Linked DNA regions of Homo sapiens: all the other regions are reported to be linked to region 1. The links are microRNA targets in miRTarBase. Many come from high-throughput screens and were not tested one by one. Region 1 holds a microRNA gene; each other region holds the end of a gene's coding sequence.
Evidence for each region. The annotated mature microRNA hsa-miR-664b-3p reads UUCAUUUGCCUCCCAGCCUACA and lies in region 1 at 2,074-2,095, opposite strand. An mRNA with a match to its seed (bases 2 to 7 or 8) in the 3' UTR can be bound and repressed. Matches are read on the target gene's strand: a 7mer-m8 pairs with bases 2 to 8, a 7mer-A1 pairs with bases 2 to 7 and ends in A, and an 8mer does both.

Region 1 (4,149 bases):
CCAGCTGCTGCCCTCCACCCCACTCCCACACCAGAGTAAAGGAGGACAACAAGGGAGTGGGGCCTGACACCAGGAAACAGGGATGACACTTATAGCCCACTAGCTGCAAGGGGCATGAGTGGTACTCAGAAGAGCCACCTCACTGTGCTATAGGTACCACTCTCCGCACATTACACACGACTCAAAAGTAGTAAAGAAGACTTTCAGGTTTTCAGGTTCTAGAGACTCACAAGTATTTTCTTTTTTTTTTTTTTTTTTTTTTAATTTTCAGGCAGAACCTCCCTCTGTTGTCCAGGGTGGAGTGCAGTGGCACATTCTCGGCTCACTGCAACCTCCATCTCCCAAGTTCAAGTGATTCTCAGCCTCCCAAGGAGCTGGGATTACAGGCACGTGCCACCACGCCCAGCTAATTTTTGTATTTTTAATAGAGACAGGGTTTCACCATATTGCCCAGGCTGGTCTCAAACTCCTGAGCTCAAGCAATTTGCCTGGCCCGGCCTCCCAAAGTGCTGGGATTATGGGTGTGAGCCACCGCACGTGGTCCATATTTTCATTTGAAACATAAAAATAGCCTTGGCATTCCTTAATTACTCCTCTCTCCTCCTTATGAGGAGAAAGAACAGATTTACTGGAGATCCAGGCAATAACAGGCTCTTAAAGAACTTGAAAACAAGATTACTGAGCCCTGTTGAACCAATCACACAAAAGTCTTGGTGCAGAATTTATAGGTCAGTGGGTACAAGTTAAGGCTACCTCTCCAGAGGTTCAATGGTACCCAATGCACCCATCTGCCTCATACCATCTCCACTCACCTAGACCTCTTTTGATCACATTCTCCCCTCCCTTTACATTCACCCAGAAGCCAATGGTTTGATAAGGAGAGGACATCACATTTATGTTGTCCACTGTTTTGTGACTGAGTTTTTTCAACTATTATGGTGCCATCTTTCAGTATTTATTACAGCCTATACACATACAAAAAATGTGAACATCTATACAAGATTTGAATATAAATAATTACCAACTACAAACATTTTAAATATCCAGAAATTTTTATCCCTCAAGTTAGAGAAAAAGACAATGTTTTAATTTATAAAAGGCCAACTCTCTGATCATCATAAAAACACAGCTCACAGCCTTGATCTCCTGGGCTCAAGCTGGTCTCAAACTCCTTCCTGGACTCAAGTGATCCTCTTGCCTCAGCCTGCCAAAGTGCTAGGATTATAGGCATCAGCCACTGTGCCTGGCCTAATGTGCCTTATTTTTAAGTATGCCTACCATTAAACTTTTACTTTAAATTAATATACTTGGTTTGGACTTGAAAAAAATAAAATAAAACCCAAGGAAAACAATAAAAAGAGCAAGCCTCATCTTTGGAGTACGTTCTTTCCAAATATAAACTCCTAACCCGGAACTTACTGCACTGTCTTTCATAACCAGCCGTTTATGAGATGTCAACAGCTTTTCCAAAGGGTAAACAACTCGCCGCAGGTAACTCTCATCCTTGTGGTTATCATACAGCCACTGAGCATCAAGCACATCATGCATTGTCACCATGTGGTCCTGAAAAGCAGCCATGTATGAAAATAATTCAGTTTATTTGTATCTCAGCCCATCAGACCCCAAACTTCCTAAAACTGAATGTCACTTGTTTACTAGTCCAAGCTCATTATGTCTTCAGCCTCTTCAGTCCTGGCTCTTCCAGGCATCTTTTTTTTTTTTTTTTTTTTTTTTTTGAGACGGAGTCTCGCTCTGTCGCCCAGGTGGGACTGCGGACTGCAGTGGCGCAATCTCGGCTCACTGCAAGCTCCGCTTCCCGGGTTCACGCCATTCTCCTGCCTCAGCCTCCCGAGTAGCTGGGACTACAGGCGCCCGCCACCGCGCCCGGCTAATTTTTTTTGTATTTTTAGTAGAGACGGGGTTTCACCTTGTTAGCCAGGATGGTCTCGATCTCCTGACCTCATGATCCACCCGCCTCGGCCTCCCAAAGTGCTGGGATTACAGGCGTGAGCCACCGCGCCCTCTTCCAGGCATCTTTAACCGTTGAAGTATTAGACCCCAAGCAGGCATTTTTGTAGGCTGGGAGGCAAATGAATAGAATAATACTTTCTACCCAATCATCTCCCTTAGCCCATTTTAATGTCCCAAAGTTTAATTAACAGAACAGGGAAGCTGCCCTGGACTGAACTCAACACTTTGGAAAGCATCTTTCCCACGACATGAAGCAAGTGGAGTGCCATCAAAGGCTGGCAGATGGTAAGAACCAGCTCTAAAACTTCTAGCCCCGTAACACATACCTTTTCACTCATGACTCCAGAACGAACCCTCCGAAGCTCCTGCATCTGACCACCAACTCCCAATAACAAACCAAGGTGCACACATAATGTCCGAATGTAGGTGCCAGCCTCACAACTCACCCAAAAGATTCCTAAGATACACACACACAAAAGAAAAGCAGCACCTACTGTAAATACATCACTGGTTGAGAAATGCAGTTATCCTTCATCTGAGCCACCAAGACTAGAGGTGACAGACACACTTCTTAAAATATAAGCATTTGCTGTAAAGATCTGTAATTCTGGCCAGGCACGGTGGCTCACGCCTGTAATTCCAGCACTTTGGGAGGCAGAGGCGGGTGGATCACGACGTCAGGAGATCAAGACCATCCTGGCTAACATGGTGAAACCCCGTCTCTACTAAATGTACAAAAAATTAGCCGGGCATGATGGCGGGCGCCTATAGTCCCAGCTACTTGGGAGGCTGAGGCAGGAAAATGGTGTGAACCCGGGAGACAGAGTTTGCAGTGAGCCGAGATCATGCCACCGCACTCCAGCCTGGGCGACAGAGCGAGACTCCGTCTCAAAAAAAAAAAAAAAAAAAAAAAAAGATCTGTAATTCTGATATTAGCAGAATTTTTAACACTTAAGTTGCAGGTATATTCAGCATGGTATGTTTCATGGATGGGAGGAAAATTGGCATTGTCTTAAATTTACTTCTGACAACAGAAACTTCTAAGCAGTCAAAATTGCAACAAATAAAAAACACATGCAAAACATACTTTGGTGAAAACACTTACCTTTGAACAAAGCACCGAACTACACAAATGCAGAATGAAAACATTTCAACTCCAGCAGAAGCAGTCATCATAAAAGGTGTAAAAGCCATCTCACTTTACTAGGCACTGTTCACTTTTTCAACAAAAGATAACAAAAACTATCGCCCACAGACAATATCCCAGCTGTAGGGCAGGTTTTAGAAAGTCTTCAACTTCAAGGGCATCTACTTTTAATAAGAGAACAGAATCCTGAAGAATGTGTTCATACCCACTCACAGGCCTAATGACTCACCTAATCTTCTTTCAGGATCGTATTCAATCATTTTGCTCTCGTAGATGGTCCTCACTCGGAGCTGCCTCTTTACTGCAGCAATAAGTGGGGGTCGCTGGAATAAGGCACCTGTCAGAGTTTCTAGGGCCTAAGAACAAACACAAATGAAAACAAACACCTCATCAGAATGTACATGTGCAGTCACTGGTCCAGGCTGGCTGCAGCAGCCGACTGAAAAGGGGACAAAAGGAGTCAGTCAGGACAGCTAACCCATCTCCAGATGTTTAGGGGCTCAGAGATCCAAGTCAACAAAGGGTGTCCTCCCTACAATTGCAGACTTACCCTAGAAAGCTGGGTCCCCCCTTCAATAGCATTGTGCAGCCGGACAATCCCCACATACTCTTTGCCTGAAAAATGACAAAAGAGTAGTCAGGTGTGGCCACTGAGTTTTCTGTTTTCCATATTTCTTATATGCTCAGTCACTCCCATTTTGCACAGCAGGAAAAGCGGCAGTTTGACCTTGTGTTTCTATAAAATTTGCATTAAGAGAGATTTCATGGTGATGATGTGGGAAAGAATGAAGACACTTTCTCACTGGGAATTCAATGTACTAACAGGGACAGTTGGGAGTACTCAGTGTAGAAGCTGCGTGGAAAAAGCCTTGCAAGATAAGCAGGCTTTTCTCAGATAAAAATGAACGAAGGATACTTTAGGCAGAAGCGGTAGCACAGAGTGAGAAGCCTGGAGTGACAAGCTGAGAGCTGAACCCGGACAAATGGATCCAGTCAGCTTGATGAATACATGCTTAGTATGTGGAATTCCA
Region 2 (4,000 bases), not on the chromosome of region 1:
GAGTCACTTAAAGATATCTAGAGATCTCTAATTGAAAAGTCATTCTTTTTAATAATTCACATGGGGAAAATTCTTAAAAGTTGTCTGATTTTTAGAATTTCTTTACTGAAAAACATATCACAATGATTGCAAAGTCATCCAGATTTAAAAATAAGTACATCTGTGACAGCTTCTCTTTCTAAACTCTAAAGATTTTAAAATTTGTGTCTTATAAAGGCTGCTAGCTTGTATAAGCTAGAAGAAGAAAACCATGAAGCTGCTACATGTCTGGAGGATGTTGTTTATCGAGGAGACATGCTTCTGGAGAAGATACAAAGCGCACTTGCTGATATTGCACAGTCACAGCTGAAGACAAGAAGTGGTACCCATAGCCAGTCTCTTCCAGACTCATAGCATCAGTGGATACCATGTGGCTGAGAAAAGAACTGTTTGAGTGCCATTAAGAATTCTGCATCAGACTTAGATACAAGCCTTACCAACAATTACAGAAACATTAAACACTATGACACATTACCTTTTTAGCTATTTTTAATAGTCTTCTATTTTCACTCTTGATAAGCTTATAAAATCATGATTGAATCAGCTTTAAAGCATCATACCATCATTTTTTAACTGAGTGAAATTATTAAGGCATGTAATACATTAATGAACATAATATAAGGAAACATATGTAAAATTCTGTTATGACATAATTTATGTCTCCATTTTGTTGTATTGGCCAGTACTTTTACAAATCAAAACATCTCTCAAGCCAAAGGAGAAGACAGTAAGAACAGACATAAGGGACATTTTAGTTTGGGCTAGTGTCCTGCCTCTTAGAGGTGGCATTGTGTAAATCTGAGCTTTGAGCAAGAAAGTTTTGGAAATTGTGTTGCTTTTAAGAAATAGAGTTAGTGTGGCTGGATAAGAAAGTCACATTTATGCAAATGTTTCTTCTGCTAGAACCTCATACCTGTTCTAGTTCATCTCCACGTTTATTTTACCAAGAGATCCTCTGTCAAGAGAATTTCCTGGCTGTTGTGAAAGAATTTTTCTACATCCTGAACTATTTTTCCTATTTCTTTTCACCTTGCTTTTTTTCATCCTTAATTTGCTTGTCATCACAATGAAGTATGTTTTTTGAATCATCAATTCTTTCTCATTCTCCATTTATCTGAAGGTTCTTTTGCCCTTATTAACCTCTCAACTTTTATTGCTGTATTCTAGTCAGACCAGAACATACTTCCACTACATCAGTTACTTGGCATCATTTCACCTCAGTTTATTATTGCCAAATAATAATTTGTGTCAGCATTTTCAACTATGGTTATTCATCCAACCCTTGGATCTCTTTGAGTCTACTGATAATCTCCACTGGAAAGGTGGAATTGAAATGTGGTCCACATTTTAACTAGCTATTTCCTGGGGCTGTATTTTTCAGAATATGCTGAGCTACATTTGCTGCAATCTGTTGCTATTCAGAGTTTAAGTTTCAGGAGAAAACAGGAACAATAGAACACTCTGCCTGTTATTTTTGTTGTAATCAAGCTTTTCCACAGTTCTTGAAAAGTACTATGTTTCAAATTTCAGGAACACCAGCGTTAGCTGTAAAAGTTGCAGCAATTTATTGGCTAGTCATAGAAAATTTTTGAACTTTTAACTGTATTTTAATTGATGTTTATTAAAAACACTTTGCTATCAGATATTTGGCATAAATCTGTACTCTTCATTATAGTTTTGGGGGGAGAGAAGATTCAGTCAGAAAACTTATTCAAAGTACCTAAGTATTATAAAGGAGTCAAAAAGGTACAAAGAGAAAAGGTCAAGACATTTTTCAAATGAGGGAAAACTAACAGGATTTATCACTAGTAAACCTGCTCTAAAAGAATTCAAGGGAAGCTTTTTAAAAAGAAGGGAAGTTATAGCAGAAGGAAACTTAGAATGGCAGGAATAAAGAAGGCATAATGTATAGGGTAAATATAATAGACTTCTCTTGAGGTTTTAAAAATTACATTTGTTATTTGAAAGAAAAAAATTAACGTTGTTGTATGTGATTCTCTGTAGAGGATATACAGTTTTTTTTTGTTGTTCTTGTTTCTGTTTTTTTAAGGTGAAGTCTCTGTCACCCAAGCTGAAGTGCAGTTCTGTGATCATGGCTCACTGCAGCTTCACCCTGGGTTCAGGTGATCCTCCCACTTCAGCCTCTTCAGTAACTGGGACTACAGGCATGTACTACCACGTCCAGCTAATTTTTTTTTTCTTTTTTTTTTAGAGATGGGGTCTCACTCTGTTGCCCAGGCTAATGCCAAACTGCTAACCTCAAGATATTAATACTATACAGTAGACTATAAGAAATTAAGTATTTGTATCATCCCTAGAGCGACACAGATTTTTCCCTAAAAAACTACAGATTATTTTCAAAAGCATTAATAAATTAAGGTGGAATACTAAAAAAGATTCAGGTAACCCAGGAACGAGAAACAGAATAAAACAATAGTAAACCTAAATTTTATTTTATTTCATTAATACAGCAATAATTAAATGTCAATGATCTAAGCTGATTTAAATCTAAAAACTGGATAAGAAGCTGTGGCTTGTAATTAAAAATAGACCTTTATTCACTAGACCTACAGTTTGCTTTTTTCATATGTTAAGAAAAGTTTAATATCCTGCTTCTCTATTTCAGTTCTAGGGGCACCACTATCAGTTAACCCTAAAGATTTCTGTGGGTGAAACCATTTTGATTACCATCTTGCTCTGCTGCCAGTTATGGTAACCAAACTCTCTTTGTTTCTGGATGCTAAATCTGTCCACTTGTGCCTTAACTACATCCTAACTCCCGTCATCTTCATTGAATTTAAGGAGCCAATTTCTTTTTTTGAGATGGAGTTTCACTCTTGTCCAGGCTGGAGTGCAATGGCACGATCTTGGCTCACCGCAACCTCAGCTTCTCGGGCTTAAGTGATTCTCCTGCCTCAGCCTCCCGAATAGCTGGGATTACAGGCAGGCACCACCATGCCTGGCTAATTTTGTATTTTTAGTAGAGACGGGGTTTCTCCATGTTGGTCAGGCTGGTCTCGAACTCCCAACCTTAGGTGATCCACCCGCCTCAGCCTCCCAAAGTGCTGGGATTACAGGCATGAGCCACTGCACCCGGCCAGGAGCCAATTTCAATGGGAGTATCCTTTACTATCATTCCTGACCTGTGATATTGGCCATTAGAGCCTTTCAAGAATGGTACCTCCTGCCGATGATTTTTTTTAAAGCCTTAATGAAGAGAGTGTCCTCTGGATCCTTCCAGAGAAGATAGGATGTGAGTGAGTAAGTTATGTATAATAATTTCACCCCAAAATTTCTATGTCCTTGATACCATTCCCTGTATACCAAGGAAGGGTATTCTGGCATTTCACTTTGATTTAATATAAGTAAACCCTGTGTCTGGGCATTAGTTAACAAACCAAGTGACTACAAGTGATAAGTAACTTTTACCATAGACTGTCAATTACCTTGGCAATGGAAACATTATTGCTTTTTAATCCAGTCAGATCAGAGAACAAATTCCAGATTTCCATCCTTAAGATTCTGTGTCTCTGCTACCACTTCTGGTAGCAAAACATGTCAGTGTGAGGTAGAGTCAATGGAATGTAGCCATGAAAAAAAAAATGCTACTACAAACATTACAGGAATAAGGAATTTGATCGAAGAATTAGCATTTACACAAAATATGGGAGGAGTTAGGGAAGTGAAAGAATGAAAGGAGAAAGAGGATAAAGAAAACACTAACCACATCACCCTAAAGCCCTTATTGCTAAATGAGGTTATTGTAGTGCCAGTTAAGTCCAGGTCAGCCAAGGCGTGCGTACCCCTTGGCCCCACTTGGAAAGCTGTGTGGATATGACTGTTGGATTAGGGGGTTCTCAAAGCCAAAATGGATTTATCAGCAATGACCTTACTGCCTGGTACCCAGCTTTGAGAGGACCAAAAACGACGGATGTGTCTTGCATTCCCTGGTCCCTCTTTC
Region 3 (4,000 bases), not on the chromosome of region 1:
TTTCTAGTGTGGGCTTCTCAAGGTGTCTCCGCCCAGGAGGATTTCGCCATCCATTTAAACGTAAGGCGGGGTTTAATCTGGAATGAAAGGATCGTCGTGGTGTTTCCAGATTGAATGAAAAACTAAACTTGCAAAATTTCGAGAAAGTGACAAGTTTACAACGAAAAAAAATCCCGGCCGAAACCCATTTTCACCTTTGCGGTCATGAAATCTTTTTTCTGGCGTCGATAATTCGAGTATTTAAAGGGAAGTGCAATGACAGTAAAAGTCTGCCTGCAAACTCACATGCCCAGCAGACCCGCCTAGGCATCAAGGGAAGGGCCTTCCCGGAGAGCGAATGGAGATTATTTCTTCCCAATAAATCCAGAAACCTCAGATGACGTGGCTCTCAAATCACCTTCCTCACTGGGTTCCTGTCCTGTACTTAAAGAAATCCTCTCTTCTGGTCTCGAAGCCAAAAGAATTTTTGTATCCCAGAAAAGAGCTCTGCTCACTTAAGAGATCTTCTCGATATTGGAAGTGGTGTCTATTTCCCATTTTAGTTGCAAAATTTGCAATAGAGTTCCCTGTGCTCAAGCTTCCTTTCAGCTTATGTGAGTGGACATCACAGCTCTTTAAACTGACCACTGCTGTAAATCAAGGATTTCCTGTCTCAGCAGCACAATCACAAAATCCACGACTGTCCTAGTGTAAAGAATGTGGCTTTATTCCTTTGCATAACCCAATTTAAGACTCAGTTTTAGAGAAGGCATGAGGCCCACCACTAGGCCAACTGTAAGGCACTGAGTCTTTCCCCAGAACCAGGCCTTTGGAAACAGGACTCAAAAGAAGCAAGTGGCTAAGGAGAAAGTCGTTTTCCTGATTGATGAAACTTCTCCCACCCCTCCCCTTTCTAAATAATAAACTCTGGGGAAAGACTGGAGGGCTGCCTTGTGTTGGTTTCAAATAAATCTTCAATAGGCTCTTTCCTCACCCAGAGAAATGAATCACCCCTGGGAAACAGACGATTATTCCCCCATTTGTCTGCCTAAAACCAGTGGAAACAAGTACCCTCCACTGTAGATGCTAACTTAGGTCTTTCGCCTGGCTGAGAGTGGGGTAGCGATGGGAGGGTAAAAAGGGATGGAGGGGGATGATTTGCATAGAAGAGAAACCCACAGAGATGCTCTGCCTGACAGAGGCAGTACTGGGTAGGCATCAGGGACCCAGGAAAGACAGGGCAAACGCAAATGCTTCCTAGACGTGCTCTCCTTGCTGGATTCTAGAAAGAGACCACAAGCCTCCCCCCATTGGAGAGGAGCTTTGGCCTCAACCAACATCTAGGTGATGTTACAACTTATTCAGAAGCAAATCCTGGGGTGTTGCATTTCAATCAGGGTTCTATTTTCTTCAGAGGGAAATGGAGGCTTGTGTTGTTGGGGCTATCCTCACTACAGCTCGATTTATTGTCCCCTTTAAACAAATAGACAAAACTGTCTTGCTGGATTACTCCTGCTTAGACAAACCATTTAGAAGTGTTATGGCGGGAGGTGAAAAGAGAAAAGTAGTTTATTAAAATGACTCCCGTTTTAGCTGACTTTTTTGTAGAAGATGCCCAATGTATATAGCTAATCAGACCAGCAATCTTCTAAGGGAAGAAAGAAGGGAGGATTCTCGCTATAAATCTGCAAGATTCTGAGACTTGGGTGGTGGTTTGACTCACCCGGAGCTCACCTTACAAAGCAGAGAAGCCTTCCCTTTCTCTGTAGGCCATGCTTCCGAGGGTGCAGGCAAGCAGGGTGAGTATTTGACTATTTTCTAAGACCACTCTTTGTTGACTTTTAAAATGTATACTAGATTTTAACATGGGGGGAAAAGCACAAGTTCAATTTAAAGTGAAAAGAAGTTAACGTACTGCTTCATCCTTGTTTGTTGCCAACACAGTCATCGTAGTGACACTCCACCTCTCATTTCCTGCCACTTTAAGTTTCCAGATTACTTTTTAAAATTCAATTCTCGAGTTTATGAGGGTCTGATTACTGCAGAGAAATGAGCTCAAATAGCATAATACTATGAATGTGGGCAATGCCCGCTTGAAGGACATTTAGTTCCAAAAATCAGCACCAATTTACCCATCCTGTTTACTTGTACGTAATCACGGAAAACCTTCACATCTGCCCACCCATCCAAATTCCTCACCCAGATACACCTTACCTGGTCCACGTGTTTCCTATCCCACTACCCCCATCTGCTAAGATTTTAGGCAAAGGCAAAGCCACGATTTAAAGGTTCTTTTTTATTTGAAATCTCATCCAGAAACACTGGTTATTAATAAATATATCATAGTTATCAAGAATATATAAAAAATAAAGACAGGTATCGTCTTTGAGGCCCTAACAAAATATTTCAAGCAAATGTTCAGGAAAATAAAAACGGCACCCCTCCCAAAACCAGGATAAGTTTTCAAAGCTGATAATAGAGAGAGCCAACCCCGCATGCAGAATAACTGAGCGAGGGGGGGTGGCGCAAGCTACTAGAGGGAGCCCAGGCTTTTACAATAGCGGCCCCAGAACAGCAAAGGAAGGTTCCGAATAAAGTTTGAAGGGGGTGGGGGTGGGAGAAGAAGCGCGTGTGCGTGAGTGTGGGTCTTTGCACTCTGCCCCTTTTTTCATTTCATACAACCACAGACAGATATATGGAGTACTTGGGATAATTCACTAATAAATCCTTGTTACAAGGAAAACGGCACCACAGCCTGCACGACATATTCAGACAAGATTCATTTAGAAGCGTGCATGCATTCTTTTGACCTACACTGCGTCGAAAGGAAAACCCACATAGGAGGTGTCATGCCCTGGACCTCGGTTGAGATTCAAAACTTGGGTCTTGATCTCTCTCGCGCTCTCTCTCTCTTTCTCTCTCCATTGTCTCTAGAAAAACTGTGGCAAGGACAGAGACAATCATAATCGCATCCATCTCAAGAAAATATTTACATTTGTTTTGCACAAAAGGGATGGCCGTCTTTTTCCAAAGCGAGAACACAGAGTCAGAGAAAGCCAACTCAAAAGTCCCTTCGCAAGTTTTTAACTACACCGATCCCATCTTTATACAACAAATGCAGTTTTGACAAGAGCATATGGCAGTGAAAAATACTGGCGCGGCATGGGGAAAAGAAGCATGCATGCAAAACACACGACATCTGGTTCGAGTCCCCCTTTGCTACCACCTAGAAATTGCGGTTTGATTTTGGTCCTTTCCCTCCGGGGGTCAAGTGGAGTCTGAGATCTCTCAGACAGCGTGGGAGGCTGCGGGCCCCGGAGCCTGCCCTCCCGTGGGCCGAGCGTGCAGCCTCCCTCTTCCCTCCCGGCCCGGCACCGCGGCCCCTCCCGCCGCTCTCCCTCCTCCTTGGCAGCCGGGCCCGCCCGCTGCTCACTTGAGCAAGTCCTTGGACTCGGCCGACAGCCGGGCCATGTTGGCTGTGGAGAGAGCGGACAGGTGCGGCGGCGGCGGCATCTGGCAGATGGTGCAGGGGCAGGGCAGACCAGCCCAGTGCTGGAAGCCGCTGCCCAGCTGCAGCGCGGGCGGCGTGGAGGGCGCCTTGAGTAGCGAGTGGGGAGGCCGGATGGTGCCGATGGCGGGAAGTGAGGCGGCGGACAGCGGTGACGAGGCGTTGCCAGATGAGAGCGCGCCGCCCAAGATGGGGTGCACCGGGTGCACGGAGTTGGCCGCGTGCGCGGGGTGGCCGGCCGAGTGGCCCACGGTCCCGCAGTGAAAGGCCGAGTGGTGGCCCCCATAGATCTCGCCAACCAGCCTCTTCATCTCCTCCAGGGAGCTGGTGAGCATGAGGATGTAGTTTCTGGCGAGCAGGAGTGTGGCGATCTTGGAGAGCTTGCGCACCGACGGCCCATGCGCGTAGGGCATGACTTCGCGCAGCCCGTCCATGGCTAGGTTCAGGTCGTGCATCCGCTTGCGTTCGCGTCCGTTGATCTTCAGCCTCAACTGCTGTAGGTCCTGCTCCGAC
Region 4 (4,000 bases), not on the chromosome of region 1:
AAGAAAATGTTTCTCCTTAAGTGTTTTACCTATTTCTTAAAAATATATATATACACACAGTCATACTATGTATCTACTCTATCAATACTATGTATATAACTGTGCAATGAATTATCCTATAATCATACCTTGTTTGTATGTTTGAAAGCCACATAGTCAATTTCCTTAGAACACGAAGAAAACAGAGATTTCATGGCTTGCAGAGGAGGGTGGAGCAAGTGGTCTTTCTGATGCCTGTGCGTGCTGCCATTTGCCTTCTCTTTCCCCAGGCAGGAAGAGTGAGGAAGAGAACCTTTTTGAGATCATCACAGCAGATGAAGTGCACTATTTCTTGCAAGCAGCCACCCCCAAGGAGCGCACAGAGTGGATCAGAGCCATCCAGATGGCCTCCCGAACTGGGAAGTAAAGAGACTCCTGCATTCCTCCTCCCCTCCTGAGGGAAGCCCATGGACAAGCTCAGTCCAGGACCTGTCCACTTCTGTGACAAATCAACGGGAAACAGCCCAGGGGTGGGAAGTTTTCATTTGCAGGGGGGTCTGAATGTAACTCACCATGTGGTGTGCAAGGTTCCCCTGCATTGTATTGCTCACTGCAGCCCCTCTGCCCCTATCCATGACCCCCAAGCAGATATAACAAGCTGTGCAGCCTCAGTAGGCTGCTTGCCCTCTCCAGGCCTCAGGGCCTCTTCTGGAAAATGAAGAAATTCAACTAGTAGATTCCTGAGGTCCCCCTAGCTTAAAAAAAAAAAAAATCTGCCCCATGATTCTAACACTCGCAGTAGTGATAGTGTATCTAGTTGTTCTGCTGGTGTCCTTCCTTGGCTAAGTCTTGGCCTTCAGTTATCTTCAAATGTACCAGAACCTGAGCCAACGCCTCCCTGTGAAACTGTTGCTGATCTGTAGTACAGTACCAGGAAGAAACCTCTTTTGTTCTCTTTAGACATCTTCTACTTGCTCTTGGCCTTGAGATCGTGTAACAAAATGAAGGAGGGCTCTCTTCTTTCTTCCTCATCCTACTCAAAAACTTCCCGAGAGCAGTGGTGGTTTTGAGGGTTTTGACTTCTATTACTTTTGGCAGCCTGGAAAGTTGTGTCTTCTGGGAAAGAGACCTGGGGAGGCCAGGAGTAGCTGAGGGTCCTTTCTGTGCCCTTAAACCGCCCAGAGGAGCCCTATTCCACTCTGGTTTTAGGCTGATCTGAGAGGGTCTCCCTTTGTTCCTTTCTGGAGCATTTCTCTAACGTTTATTACAATTAGGAGGGGGACCCCACATCTGTGAGATTCTGTTTCATTTGAGGTTTACAGAAAAAAAAAAGTGGCCAGATGTGTTCCCCCCATGGGTGAGAGGCCTGGGCAACTGCCTGGTGAATGTGTCTTGCGGCAGCTGCAGCAAGTGGAGGGGCTGAACTACTGGCCAGCTCACTGGATGATGGGTTAATACAACAACTGCACTGTAAGGACTCAGAGCCACACAGAACTTCTGAGAGGGGCTGTTAGCATTGCGCAGCATCTTCAGTTCTCCAGTAAATGATATTGCGTTCGTGCCTCAGCTTTAAGCACAAGTAGCAGCAGCTCCTGCTTGAGTTCTGAGGGCATCATGGCCCTATGATTAACCAGAGTGATCTAACCTAGACTAAAATTGGGAACTTATTTGCAATTTTTGACCCTGACCACTAACTAGTGATTCTTCTCCAAAATTGAGAAAGACAGCACCCATTGAAGCAGATATGTGTGTGAAAGTATATTTTTCAATTCCAGATTTTTAATTTTAAGGCTCCAGGAAAGAAAGGAGAGTAGAACATTTTTCCTCATTTTATCAAATCCTCTCTTGCCCTCCCTCAATTCCCCTGTAACATTCCTGAAGCTGTTCCCACTCCCAGATGGTTTTATCAATAGCCTAGAGGTAAAGAACTGTCTTTTTCTCTGATTCTTTAATAAATTATCTTTATAGAATATGCACAAGTTTTTCTACACTCAGTGTTAAAGTATTTATTAATGGGAAGTCAACTTAATGTTTTGAAATAAATATATGACTCTGTTTAATGCATTTTTGGTGTGATGACTCTGTTTTGCCTCCTATTGATAACTCTCCCCTCTGGCCGGGCACGGTGGCTCATGCCTGTAATCCCAATATTTGAGAGGCCAAGGCGGGTGGATCACTTGAGGTCAGGAGTTCGAGATCAGCCTGGCCAACATGGTGAAACACTGTCTCTACTAAAAAAAAACAAAACAAACAAACAAACAAATAACTCTCCTTTCTTACAACTCAGTTTTATTTACTAAGGGTAACACTATCTTTTATTTTTCATCATCTCAATAGCTTTATGATTTTTAAAATTTATTTTATGTTAAGTTCTGGGGTACATGTGCACAACATGCAGGTTTGTTACATAGGTACACATGTGAATTGTTGGTTTGCTGCACCCATCAACTTGTCATTTACATTAGGTATTTCTCCTGATGCTATCCCTCCCCCAGTCCGCCACCCCCTAACAGGCTCCAGTGTGTGATTTTCTCCTCCCCGTGTCCATGTGTTCTCATTGTTTAACTCCCACTTATGAGTGAGAACATGAGGCGTTTGGTTTTCTCTTCTTGTGTTAGTTTGCTGAGAATGATGGTTTGCAGCTTAATCCATGTTCCTGCAAAGGACATGAACTCATCCTTTTTTATGGCTGCATAGTATTCTATGGTGTATATGTGCCACATTTTCTTTATCCAGTCTATCATTGATGGGGATTTGGGTTGGTTCCAACACTTTGCTATTGTGAAGAGTGCTGCAATAAACATATGTGTGCATGTGTCTTTATAGTAGAATTATTTATAATTCCTTGGGTATATACCCAGTCATAAGATTGCTTTGTCAAATGGTATTTCTAGTTCTACATCCATGAGGAATCACCACACTGTCTTCCACAGTGGTTGAACTAATTTATACTCCCACCAACAGTGTAAAAGCATTCCTATTTCTCCACATCCTCTCCAGCATCTGTTGTTTCCTGACTTTTTAATGATCAACATTCTAACTGGGGTGAGATGGTATCACATTGTGGTTTTGATTTGTGTTTCTCTAATAACCAGTGATGATGCGCATTTTTTCATAAGTTTGTTGGCTGCATAAATGTCTTCTTTTGAGAAGTGTCTGTTCATGTCCTTCACCCATTTTTTGATGGGGTTGTTGTTTTTTTTCTTGTAAATTTGTTTACGTTCTTTGTAGATTTTGGATATTAGCCCTTTGTCAGATAGATAGATTGCAAAAATTTTCTCCCCATCTGTAGGTTGCCTGTTCACTCTGATGATAGTTTCTTTTGCTGTGCAGAAGCTCCTTAGTTTAATTAGATCCCATTTGTCTATTTTGGCTTCTGTTGCCATTGCTTTTGGTGTTTTAGTCATGAAGTCTTAGCCCATGCCTATGTCCTGAATGGTATTGCCTAGGTTTTCTTCTAGGGTTTCTATGGTTTTATGTCTTATGTTTAAGTGTTTAATCCATCTTGAGTTAATTTTTGTATAAGATGTAAGGAAGGGATCCAGTTTCAGCTTTTTGCCTATGGCTAGTCAGTTTGCCCAGCACCATTTATAAAATAGGGAATCCTTTTCCCATTGCTTGTTTTTGTCAGGTTTGTCAAAGATCAGATGGTTGTAGATGTGTGGCATTATTTCTGAGGCCTCTATTCTGTTCCGTTGGTCTATATATCTGCTTCAGTAACAGTACCATGCTGTTTTGGTTACTGTAGCCTTGTAGCACAGTTTGAAGTCAGGTAGTGTGATGCCTCCAGCTTTGTTCTTTTTGCTTAGGATTGTCTTGGCTATGCAGGCTCTTTTTTGGTTCCATATGAAATTTAAAGTAGTTTTTCCAATTCTGTGAAGAAAGTCGGTGGTAGCTTGATGGGGATAGCATTGAATCTATAAATTACTTTGGGCAGTATGGCCATTTTCATGATATCAATTCTTCCTATCCATGAGCATGGAATGTTCTTCCATTTGTTTGTGTCCTCTGTTATTTCCTT

Region 2: the mRNA of MED21 is a reported target of hsa-miR-664b-3p. Seed matches in the 3' UTR shown: 7mer-m8 at 1,815-1,821.
Region 3: the mRNA of OLIG3 is a reported target of hsa-miR-664b-3p. Seed matches in the 3' UTR shown: 7mer-A1 at 2,758-2,764 and 7mer-A1 at 2,647-2,653.
Region 4: miRTarBase lists PLEK as a target of hsa-miR-664b-3p. Seed matches in the 3' UTR shown: 7mer-A1 at 693-699 and 7mer-A1 at 979-985.

What each region holds. Positions count from the first base shown.
Region 1 is chrX:154,766,581-154,770,729 of GRCh38, reverse strand. It overlaps MIR664B (microRNA 664b), which reads right to left and starts at 2,134; the gene lies at 2,074-2,134. DKC1 (dyskerin pseudouridine synthase 1) reads right to left here. Exons shown (of 15, transcript NM_001363.5): 6 at 3,669-3,733; 7 at 3,348-3,474; 8 at 2,298-2,428; 9 at 1,420-1,563. It overlaps SNORA36A (small nucleolar RNA, H/ACA box 36A), which reads right to left and starts at 2,202; the gene lies at 2,071-2,202.
Region 2 is chr12:27,028,069-27,032,068 of GRCh38, forward strand. It overlaps MED21 (mediator complex subunit 21), which reads left to right. Exons shown (of 4, transcript NM_004264.5): 4 at 217-2,605. The coding sequence ends at 393. Among named protein-coding and RNA genes, the nearest start is that of MED21, 7.5 kb to the left of the region's middle.
Region 3 is chr6:137,489,944-137,493,943 of GRCh38, forward strand. It overlaps OLIG3 (oligodendrocyte transcription factor 3), which reads right to left. Exons shown (of 1, transcript NM_175747.2): 1 at 2,256-4,000. The coding sequence ends at 3,409. Among named protein-coding and RNA genes, the nearest start is that of OLIG3, 2.4 kb to the right of the region's middle. RefSeq lists an enhancer at 3,361-3,860.
Region 4 is chr2:68,395,411-68,399,410 of GRCh38, forward strand. It overlaps PLEK (pleckstrin), which reads left to right. Exons shown (of 9, transcript NM_002664.3): 9 at 270-2,043. The coding sequence ends at 406. Among named protein-coding and RNA genes, the nearest start is that of PLEK, 32 kb to the left of the region's middle.